Regions from separate parts of the Homo sapiens genome. Here region 1 is reported to be linked to region 2. The links are microRNA targets in miRTarBase. Many come from high-throughput screens and were not tested one by one. Region 2 holds a microRNA gene; the other region holds the end of a gene's coding sequence.
What was found. The annotated mature microRNA hsa-miR-4999-5p reads UGCUGUAUUGUCAGGUAGUGA and lies in region 2 at 2,757-2,777, shown strand. An mRNA with a match to its seed (bases 2 to 7 or 8) in the 3' UTR can be bound and repressed. Matches are read on the target gene's strand: a 7mer-m8 pairs with bases 2 to 8, a 7mer-A1 pairs with bases 2 to 7 and ends in A, and an 8mer does both.

Region 1: miRTarBase lists PPWD1 as a target of hsa-miR-4999-5p. The part of its 3' UTR that is shown has no 7-base or 8-base seed match.

The regions. Positions count from the first base shown.
Region 1 is chr5:65,586,585-65,591,968 of GRCh38, reverse strand. It overlaps PPWD1 (peptidylprolyl isomerase domain and WD repeat containing 1), which reads right to left. Exons shown (of 11, transcript NM_015342.4): 11 at 4,420-4,716. The coding sequence ends at 4,573. It overlaps TRIM23 (tripartite motif containing 23), which reads left to right. Exons shown (of 11, transcript NM_001656.4): 11 at 21-2,279. The coding sequence ends at 200. Among named protein-coding and RNA genes, the nearest start is that of PPWD1, 26 kb to the right of the region's middle.
Region 2 is chr19:8,386,733-8,392,116 of GRCh38, reverse strand. It overlaps MIR4999 (microRNA 4999), which reads left to right and starts at 2,737; the gene lies at 2,737-2,827. It overlaps RAB11B (RAB11B, member RAS oncogene family), which reads right to left and starts at 1,757. Exons shown (of 5, transcript NM_004218.4): 1 at 1,661-1,757. The coding sequence starts at 1,700. RAB11B-AS1 (RAB11B antisense RNA 1) reads left to right here and starts at 1,426. Exons shown (of 3, transcript NR_038237.1): 1 at 1,426-2,108. LOC124904632 (a long non-coding RNA gene) reads right to left here. Exons shown (of 2, transcript XR_007067128.1): 2 at 3,958-5,384. RefSeq lists silencers at 1,365-1,624, 1,844-2,125 and an enhancer at 1,895-2,094.

The DNA.
Region 1 (5,384 bases), not on the chromosome of region 2:
TATGTGTATATATCTTTCAGGATGTTGCTGGAGCACTGTCAGTAGAAGAAATCACTGAACTACTCAGTCTCCATAAATTATGCTGTGGCCGTAGCTGGTATATTCAGGGCTGTGATGCTCGAAGTGGTATGGGACTGTATGAAGGGTTGGACTGGCTCTCACGGCAACTTGTAGCTGCTGGAGTATTGGATGTTGCTTGATTTTAAAGGCAGCAGTTGTTTGAAGTTTTGTGGTTAAAAGTAACTTTGCACATAGTATGTTTTAAGAAATTATACATCTCAAAAGATGGTAATTTAGGATGCATATATATATATATATATATAAAGGAATCTTGGATTGGGAATTCAGTACTTTGCTTTAAAAAAATTTTGTGGCAGAATTAAATTTCTAATTGAGCAGATTAGATTGAATTAAATAGAAACTTATTGAATATACATTCTTTTAAAAAGTATATTTGTTATTTAAGTTTTTCAGATAATATGTGACCAATATACTGGGAAAGAGGTAGTCACAGAGAAAGGGTAAGTGAAGGTTTATTCTTTCAGTGAAAAAAGAATAGCCAATTGAGTGCCTAATGAGACCTCTGTGTGAAGCAAGTGAAGTATAGCTGCTTCTTTTAACCTGCCTTTTCACTGAATGTTGGCAGCATTTAGTAGTAGAAATGACAGTTGCTTAATGAAATAGAATCCAAACTACATATTTGGATAATAGGATTACTTTATGTTTATGTTCAGAGTTAACAGAACACCTTTAATGCTAAGAACTATAAGGTACAGAAAATTAATACTTTATATAGTGTTTTATTAACTTTCTCCTACAGCATTTTGTATAAAACACAATGAGGGAGTGAAATGTTACCCAATTAGGCTTGTCAGGTTAGTAATAAACTGAACAGTAATAAAACTGTGGAAGTAATTGGATCTGAATTTATGAAAGACCCATTTCCAGGACTGAACCTAGGTCAGAGCTCTAAATTGGTCCTTCTATTTTTCAACAAATTTAAAGTAATATTTCTTTCTAATATAATATTGCATCCTTTGTGGGAATGACTATAGGTAAAATGTAGTAAGTAACGCAGAACCAGGGTTGGCTTTATTTAAAAGCTAGTGACCTAAATAGAAAGCGAACTTCAAGAGAAGTTGTAAGTACAGTGGCAAATGCTTATTACTTACTTCAAACTGTTTCCCAAAATAAGTGCATTTATTTTGACAATAAAACTTAAGGCTGTTCATGAGAAGGCCTTGAAAAGTTACTCTAGAGGAAAAATGTCTAAAGAAAAAAAAAATTCAAAAAGTTTACATTAATTATTCAGTGTTGTGAGTAAATAAAAATGTGTGCTCTTTACTGTTTTTCATTTTTAAAGAATATTATTATGGAAGCACGATTTATTTAAATAGGTACATTGAGACTTTTTTTTTTTTAATGTTCTGATACATTAGGATGAAGTTAAATCTTAAATCTTATTAGTTGAATTGTTGTAAGGACAGTGATGTCTGGTAACAAGATGTGACTTTTTGGTAGCACTGTTGTGGTTCATTCTTTTCAAATCTATTTTTGTTTAAAAACAATACAAGTTTTAGAAAACAAAGCATTAAAAAAAAAGCCTATCAGTATTATGGGCAATATGTAAATAAATAAATGTAATATTTCATCCTTTATTTTTCAGGTAAAAGGTCATGCTGTTACAGGTGTAGTTTGTGTGCATAAATAATACTTCCGAATTAAATTATTTAATATTTGACTGATTTCAATAACTGTGAAAAATAAAAAAGGTGTTGTATTGCTTGTGAGAACTTGAACTGTTTACTAGTTAATTGAAGAAAAAGTGTAACACTAAGGTGAACTTGCTTCCCTTTTCACTAATTTTGCTAAACTTTGTAATGCACATTCTTAGCATATAACTGAACACAGTTGAAAAATTGTGCCTGATTATAATGTATGTATAATGGTAGGTGTTTGTGTGTGATTCATTTTTAAAGAAATATTTTTCTCAAGCTCCTATTACTATTTGTGGTTGTATTATTTCACTAATCATTAGTTAAGACTGTGCTAGTCTTCCCTGGGAAACTAAGAAGAGAGCTTTTTTATATACAGTATATTAGAATTTTCCTAGTAGCTGAATTTCTGTATTAGGTCTAAATATTACTGTATGTTATATAAAGCAGGTATGTCAAGTGTATAGCCGTAGTCTATAATTCAGGAATGCTTTATAACCATCAGAAGCCATTATTTGCACTACATATATGATAAGTATAGACAGCAATAAAATGTTAAGATCATTTTTAAGAAGTCCCATCATTATTCTTGAAAGTCTCTTTCTTGAACCATCTACCTAATATTATTGCTAGTTGTAACCAATTTAAGAAGTCATTATTTGTGCTGTGGTTAGGAGAGAAAATAAAACAAAATGGGTATGGGTTGGCATGCCTGTCAAATTTGAGATGTAGTTTATTTGATACAGCAAAATTTTAGAAATAACGTTTTGAATTTGCAACATAGGCCACATTTACTGATGAGAACAGATACTAAACTTGATCTTAACTACACCTGATCTTAGCCAAAAGGCCGAGAAGTAATGTGCAGGCCACATTTAAATAAGTAATATAACCATAGTGTTTTGAAGGCGGAGCTAAAGTTTTACATTGAACGAAGTGAAACTTTGTTACTGCCTTTTAAATTTTAAATGTAAACTTGTTTCATAAGAAAACATAGTATTTTAAATGACCATTTTAGAAAATGGCTTGCAAAACTTAGTGGTAGCTCATGAACTAATACTGCTAAGAGAAAGGCTTTTTATGTAACACTGGGATACTTCTCAATTGGCAAAGTGCTAACAAAGAAGAAGACAGCTGTATTCTTCCCTAAAAGAATAAAGGATGAAAAGGACTAATGAATAAGGATGAAATTATATCCTGATAACTTAAAACATGCTTTTAAAAAGACATGGGCAATGTATGTTTTTAGGTCTGCCGATTAAGTTTTTGATATTAATCGAAAAATTCATTAGTCAAATATGGTTTTCACTCAAAGCAAAATAATTGTATTTGTTGGGGAATGAGGCATCATCACCACTTGGTGGCAATATTACCAAAAATTTAGATTAAATTTTTAGGAATGAATAAAGCTAGGTAGGTAAGACTAAACAACTAAAATTAGAAACAGTAAATGTCACATTGAAAAGTCATTTTCATGTCTAACTTTAAGTTCTACTTTTAAAAAGGAGCATACATTACAGGAGCACAATCTGGCATAATCTCCTATCTATCTCACAACTTTGTAGCACGAAATAAATAAAGAATCCTGCTGATCAATAGAAGGAAAAGTTTAAGCCGATTTAAAACTTAAGAATATAAATTCCCTACACAGGTCTGTTGAGAATGTTCTTCCTGTAAGTTTCTGAAAGAAAGAGTCTTTCTTTCTGGAAACGAAGCAGTGAGTCTTAATAGTTATGAAGTTAGTTATAAGTGTAAGTGAAGAAGATCAATATAAGAATTTGTGCTCATATTGTTTTACTGCTCCAATTTCTACTAATCTCTCCATTGTTAGATACCAAAATTTTTATGTATACTTCTTAATGGTATATTTTCTAAAGATATACTATAACTTGAGGACAGAAAAAATTGTTTACCTATGTTAGAAAAATAATCTGAAAATCAACCTGCATATAATAAACTAAGGACTCAGGTATTCACTTATTCTGAATCTTTCATTTGAAAGAATATTTCATAATTATTAAGGAATATAACACTTTGACCAAAGTAACTTCCTGTTTATTGAGGCTTTACTCACCACTACTTACTAAACAGTTATCAAAAGACTAAAATATTTGGCATTGAAACCTTGTAAAACAAAGGAAATGACATATAATATCATATCCTAGTATTTTTTTCTTATAGGAGGGATCTGCACTCTTCTAAACATAAGGGCGGAATATCTGGCAGGTATTCAAAATTAAAGCACAGTTGTGTACCACTGTCATTATTTAATAGAGTTGTCATCGCACGGGATACCTTCTAAGACCTCCAGTGGATGCCTGAAACTTCAGATGATACTAAACCCCATATATATTGTGTTTTCATATATATATATCTATGATAAAGTTTAATTTATAAATTAGGCACAGTAAGAGATTAACAACAATAAAATAGAACAACTATAGCAGTATACTGTAATAAAAGTTAGTGAATGTGGTCTTGCTGTCTGAAAATATCTCACTGTATTGTACTCACCTATTTTTGGATCATGGTTGACAGTAGAAAGAAAACCATGGGAAAGGGGGTGGAGGAGAGTACTGTAATTATTTAATATTTAATTTGAGGCTGATTAGAAATTACCTATAATGAGTGCTATTTGCCTGAGTTTAGTCCATTTCAATTTATCACCTCCCAGGATTAGAAATATTGCGAGAAAAGTCAAAGGTAATTTTTAAAAAATAGCCTTTAATAAAAAATACAAAAATACTGTATCTTTGAAACATGATCTGTATATTCAGCAAGTCCTAAGCTTCCTAATGTAAAATAATCTGTTTAATATTGTATTTTTATTTGCAAGTACATTAAAACAAATCTTATTTTACTTGACAGTAATATTTATGATGCTGACATCCTCATAGGGCTTATCTGTTTTGGGATTGACTTTGACGTTGGAGATCCTCTGTACAACTTCCATTCCTTTAGTCACTCGTCCAAATACTGTATGCTTATTATCAAGCCAAGGCTGTGTTGGAGGACAAATGGAAAATCTTGGTAAACCCCAATTTCTTTAAATTATATCCTCTGGTTGAGCAAATTAAAGAGAATTTAAGTTTACGCTCCCCTTTAGCATATATTTAAAAAGAAGTACAATAATTTCTCAGCAATAAAAATGTAGCAGCTTTTAAAAGTTATTTCCAGTGTGTTAAAAAAAATAGAAGCATAGTATAATGTTTAATTAAATATCTGCATCTTTCAGACCAAAGGGAACTGGAAGATCTTCCCTAAAGGTAAGTTACTTCACATGGCTTACAGAATTGTGGCTAAGGCTTTAAAAGGTCTCTGGAGGACTCTTACCTGAACAGTTTATTCAGAGGCAGTTTGAAATAGTTTATGCAGCACATACTTTGGCATTAGACAGGTGGGAGTTCAAATGCTAGCTTGGCTACTTGACCTTTTGGCAAGTTAATCATGTCTCACTGTTTCTTCATCTATTATTGAAAACTGGGGATACTGATAGTAGAAGTACTGTGAATACTACATAAAACTATGTGCCTGGCAGATGGTAGTTACATTTTTCCCTTCTTCATCACTTAGTGCTTAATTCCAAAACAAAAACTAGGTAATTTTTATAATTTTGTGTTATGGCATAGCAATAGAGCTAGGTTACCTTATACTGTATTTCATCAAATC
Region 2 (5,384 bases):
GGTGGGCTGAGTGGAGATGGCACCCGATCAGCAGGACCCAAAGTTTAGTCCCCCTGTCTCCAGACGGCCCCTTAGAATCCCAGTCTCCAAAACCCTTCCAAAGCTTCCTCCTGCCACGAGGGGCGAGACCTTGGGCCGGGCACCTGCTGACCACAGAGCCTCACCCACCAGTGACATTATCAACCTGTGTGCAGCTGCCAGAGCCCTCAGTGCCACAGGACGACTCTAGGCCCTTGTAGAGGCACTTCCTCTCCCTCCCCCCGGAAGGCTTTCGCCACACGGACAGCCCAGGTGGGGAGACCTCTGCCTCATTCCCCACAATCAGAAGACGCTGGATGAGACCAGACACAAGGCCCAGCTAGGCCTGGTGCAAGCCACAGAGCACACTCGGAGGAACGGCTCAGCGAGGTGAGGATACCAACAGCTGATGTGCGACGCAGGCCCTCATAGAGCAGGCCGCAGGGTGAAGGCACCTTGGATCCAGGGGTTAGCCCTCAAGGGCTGCCATTGTCAGCCAGGGAGCCCAGCAACCAGGGCAGACCACTAGGCCAAAGTGTAGCTGGGCACAGAAGGCTCAGCTGAGAAACAAGGGACTCCGGCTTCCTCCAGCTGTCCCTAAATGGGCAATGGCTGCCTGATCTACCTAGGCCTTATGTGATGCTCCTAGAGCCCCCTCAGTCCCTCGGGCGGGGAAGACCCTCCAGCAGGCTGGCTGGGGCCCCGGCCATCAGTGCGCACGTGTTGGAAGAAGTTGGTCCAACAACCCAAAGTCCCAGATGCTGGCCACAAGCCCCCTAAGACACGCTTCCTAAGTGGTAAGGCCTACAGGTGGCCTGGGCTCAATCGGGTTCCAACACTTATAAACTGTGTCTTTGTCACTCTGGGCCTCAGTTTCCCAACGTGTAAAAAGAGAGGCTGGTTAGTATCAACCTCAAAGGGCTGCAGTGAGGATTTTAGTTAATTCGGGTAAAGTGCTCAGAAAAGTGCAAGTACTGGCTTAGCACTGTTGAGAGTTCTGAGTGAAGAGATGGAATTCTTGCTGCACACACGGGTGCCTTTCCACTCAATCCCAGCTTTGCACCCCAATCCAAGGCTCCCACCACCACACACCTCACCCCCAGGCCCTCATCTCGGCCCAGCCCCCATTGCCTGCCCCGCCTCTCCCGGGCCCCACCCCCAAACACGCTGCCCCAATCAGGACAAGCCTCGTGAGAGCCCCGCCTCCGTTTGCCCAGGCCCAACCCACCTATTGGTCACGCCCATCACGCCTTAGCCCCGCCCCTAAAAACCCCGCCCCCATCCCGAATCACGCTTTCAGCCCAGCCCGGCCCGCCAAATCTTGGGAAAGCTCCACCCCCTGCGGAGGCCCCGCCCTAACAGCCTCTCCCACCGCTCCGGGCCCCACCCCCTCTAGGCTCTGGCCCCGCCCCGGCGCGTCCTAGGTCCCCCAGGTCTCTCCGGGCCTCCGGCTCCGTATAGCCGCGCATCCTAGCCCGAAGCTGATGCTGCCCGGTCGGCTCCGGCCTTCCCGGCTGCCTGACCCGCCGGGCCCCAAGCCCCGGGCTCCGGCCTGGGCCCAGCGGCCTGGAGCGCGGCCTTGGCCCGTCTGCCCGCCGCCTCGCCGCCACGACTTCGCCCGTCTGTGCCCCACCGGCCGCACCTTTGAATAGGTAGTCGTACTCGTCGTCCCGGGTCCCCATTGTCCTGGCGCTTCCGGCGGGATCGGCGACTCCGCAGCCCCACCACAAACACCCGACGGGGGCGGAGCCGGCGCCGCGCAGAGCGGCGGTTGAATGGCCTATCAGCGGCGAGTGGAGTAGCGACGGGCACCCAGCGAAGCCAATCAGAGATGGAAGTAGTGCTCTGAGGGTGGGCGCCGCTTGGTACCACCCTCCTCGCCCTCGGTGTCCTGGAGAAAGGCGGAAGGAATGCGGACCTTTTTGAAGTGACGGACGCGCCAGCCTATCAGGGGCGAGCTCAAGAGGGCGGGGCGGAAGACTGCAGGAATGAAATGGATTGACAGACCAAATAACTAATGAGAGGCTTGATTGAGAACCTACCCGACTATCAGAGGACCTGTCCGGGAAGAGAAATGGGGCTACGTCCAGGTAATGCTACGATGCTTAACGTCCCGATGACGTCATAGGTCAGCGCGCGCTGCCCTGGTCGCCCCCCAAGCCCATAAATGACCATTTCCGGGGACCTCAGCGCTGGGTCCCCTTTCTCGGTTGCAGTCTCCATCTCTATATTGGGACTCACTGGGTTATCCTTCTGTGCCTCAGTTTCCTCCTCTGTAAACTGAAGAAACCCGTCTCATGGAATCTTTTGAAAATAACCAGATCAGCCAGGCGCGGTGGCTCACGCCTGTAATTCCAGGACTTTGGGAGGCCGAGGCTGGCGGATCACGAGGTCAGGAGTTCGAGACCAGCCTGACCAACATGGTGAAACCCCGTTTCTACTAAAAATACAAAAATTAGTCGGGCGTGGTCGCTGGTGCCTGTAAACCCAGCTACTCAGGAGGTTGAGGCAGGAGAATCGCTTGAACCTGGGAGGTGGAGGTTGCAGTGAGCCGAGATTGCACCAAGTGTGAATCAACCGTCCACTTTCTGCTATTCTTTGTTAAATAAATACTTTTAAATCCTTACTGGATACCAATGCTCTCCAACAGGACCTCCTACCACTACCCCTCTTTTGTCCTATATTTTGCCACATAGGTAAAATATAAAAATAGGTAATATAGAAAATAAAACACATACTGCTGTATTGTCAGGTAGTGATAGGATTTATCACTACCTGACAATACAGTATGTGTTTGTTTTATATATTTAGGGTGTACAGCGTGTGTTTTGATACACATGTACCCAGTGAAATAATAATTATGACAGTTTTTTTTTTTTTTTTTGAGACGGAGTTTTGCTGTCGTTGCCCAGGCTGAAGTGCAATGGTGTGCTCTCGGCTCACTGCAGCCTCTGCCTCCCGGGTTCAAGCGATTCTCATGCCTCAGCCTCCCGAATAGCTGGGATTACAGGCATGCACCACCATGCTTGGCTAATTTTTTTGTATTTTTAGTAGAGACGGGGTTTCTCCATGTTGGTCAGGCTGATCTCGAACTCCTGACCTCAGGTGATTCGCCCACCTTGGCCTCCCAAAGTGCTGGGATTACAGGCATTTTCACCACACATGGCCAATTATGAGAGTTAAGCAATTAACCTATCCATTGCCTTCCATAATTAACTGTGTGTGTAGTGAGAGTATCTAAAATGTACTTTCTTGGCAAATTTTCAATATACTATGCAAAATTATTAACACAAAGTATACGTTACTTTTTGTTTGTTTGTTTTGGCTGGCTGCGGTGGCTTATGCCTAAAAACATGCCCTTTGAGGAGGCTGAGGTGGGAGGATCACTTGAGGCCAGGAGCTAGAGACCAGCCTAGGCAACATGTCAAAACCCAGTCTCTCAAAAAAAAAAAAAAAAAAAGAAAAAAAGGAAAAAAAAGAGAAAAGGAAAAAAAAGAAAAGAACAACAACAAAAATTAGCCAGATGTGGTGCATCATGCCAGGGTCCCAGATACTTGGGAGGCCAAGGCGGGAGGATCATTCGAGCCTGGGAAATCGAGGCTGCAGTGAGCCATGATCACCCCACTGCACTCCAGCTTGGGTAACAGAGCAAGACCCTGTCTCAAAAAAAAAAAAGCCTTGCTTTCCTGACCCATTGATCTGTTTGTTTTTTGTCCTCTGTCAGCAGCATATCAGCCTGATGACATCAGGGACTGTATCTGTCCCCATCATTGCTGTAAGTTCCCCACTGCTGAATAAATACGTTTATTTATTCAGTGGTGAATAATCTAAGCCTAGAGTCAATGTACTAGTTATTAGAGCAGATGCCATTATCGCCTCTTGGATCTCATTCCCAGGGTGTTCATTGGGCATCTGTCAAAAAAACAAAATTACAACACATTTAGTTTAAAGATCTTAATTGATTTTATTTGCAATTCTACAATCGGGCAACACTTCATTTCACAAAATGAAACTAATTTTCCCATGAGCTGAGCAGGTAGGTTGGTTTTACAGGCAGAAAAAGGGCCAAGTAAAGCACAAACAGAAAATAAAACGTGGAGGTCAGGTGCAGTGGCTCATGCCTGTAATCCCAGCACTTTGGAGGCCGAGGCAGGCAGATCACCCGAGGTCAGGAGTTCGAGACCAGCTTGACCAACATGATAATGATGATGAAACCCTATCTCTACTAACAATACAAAAATATTAGCCGGGCGCGGTGGCAGGTGCCTGTAATCCCAGCTACTCAGGAGGTTGAGGCAGGAGAATCACTTGAACCAGGGAGGCGGAGGTTGCAGTGAGCGAAGATCACACCATTGCACTCCAGCCTGGGAGAGCAGAGCAAAACTCCGACTCAAAAAAAAAGAAAAAAAGAAAAGAAAACTTGGATTGGTCATTTTAAAGTTTCCTTTTGGAGTCTGAGTCTTGCTCTGTCACCCAGGCTGGAGTGCAGTGGTGCGATCATAGCTCACTGCAACCTCAACTTCCTGGGATCAAGCAATCTTCCCACCTCAGCCTCCTGAGGAGCTAGGATCACAGGTGTGTGCCACCATGCCCAGCTAATTTTTTTTTTCCAGAGACAGGGTCTTGCCTTGTTGGCCAGGCTGGATTTGAACTCCTGAACTCAAGCAATCCTCCTGCCTTGGCCTCCCAAAGTGCTGGGATTACAGGCATGAGCCACCACCGCACTCAGCCCAAAGTTACTTTTCTTGTAAAGGTTAAAGCAGAGAGGACATCCTTATCATGATGGCTAAAACTGACCTGGTGGGAGACTTGGCTATCCCATCTCTCTCTCTCCTGATTTTGTAGAAGGTCAGATAAACAACTTAGTTTCTTTTTGATCACGTAAAACTTTAGCATGAGTGACTCCATTTTGGTTTAGTTTGTTGGGCCTGGTGTAGGAAGTCAGTCCAAAGTAATAGCCTCCTATAAGTTTTGTATAACACATCCTGTGTCCAGATTGGTGGGTTCTTGGTCTTGCTGACTCCAAGAATGAAGCCACAGACCCTCCGGTGAGTGTTACGGTTCTGAAAGATGGTGTGTCCAGAGTTTGTTCCTTCTGATATTCAGACATGTCTAGAGTTTCTTGCTTCTGGTGGGCTTTTGGTCTCGCTGACTTCAGGAGTGAAACTGCAGACCTTTGCGGTGAGTGTTACAGCTCATAAAGGCAGTGCGCACCCAAAGAGTGAGCAGCAGCAGGATTTACTGGGAAGAGTGAAAGAACAAAGTTTCCACAGCATGGAAGGGGACCCAAGCACGTTGCCGCTGCTGGCTGCGGTGTCCTGCTTTTATTCCCTTATTTGGCCCCACCTACATCCTGCTGATTGGTC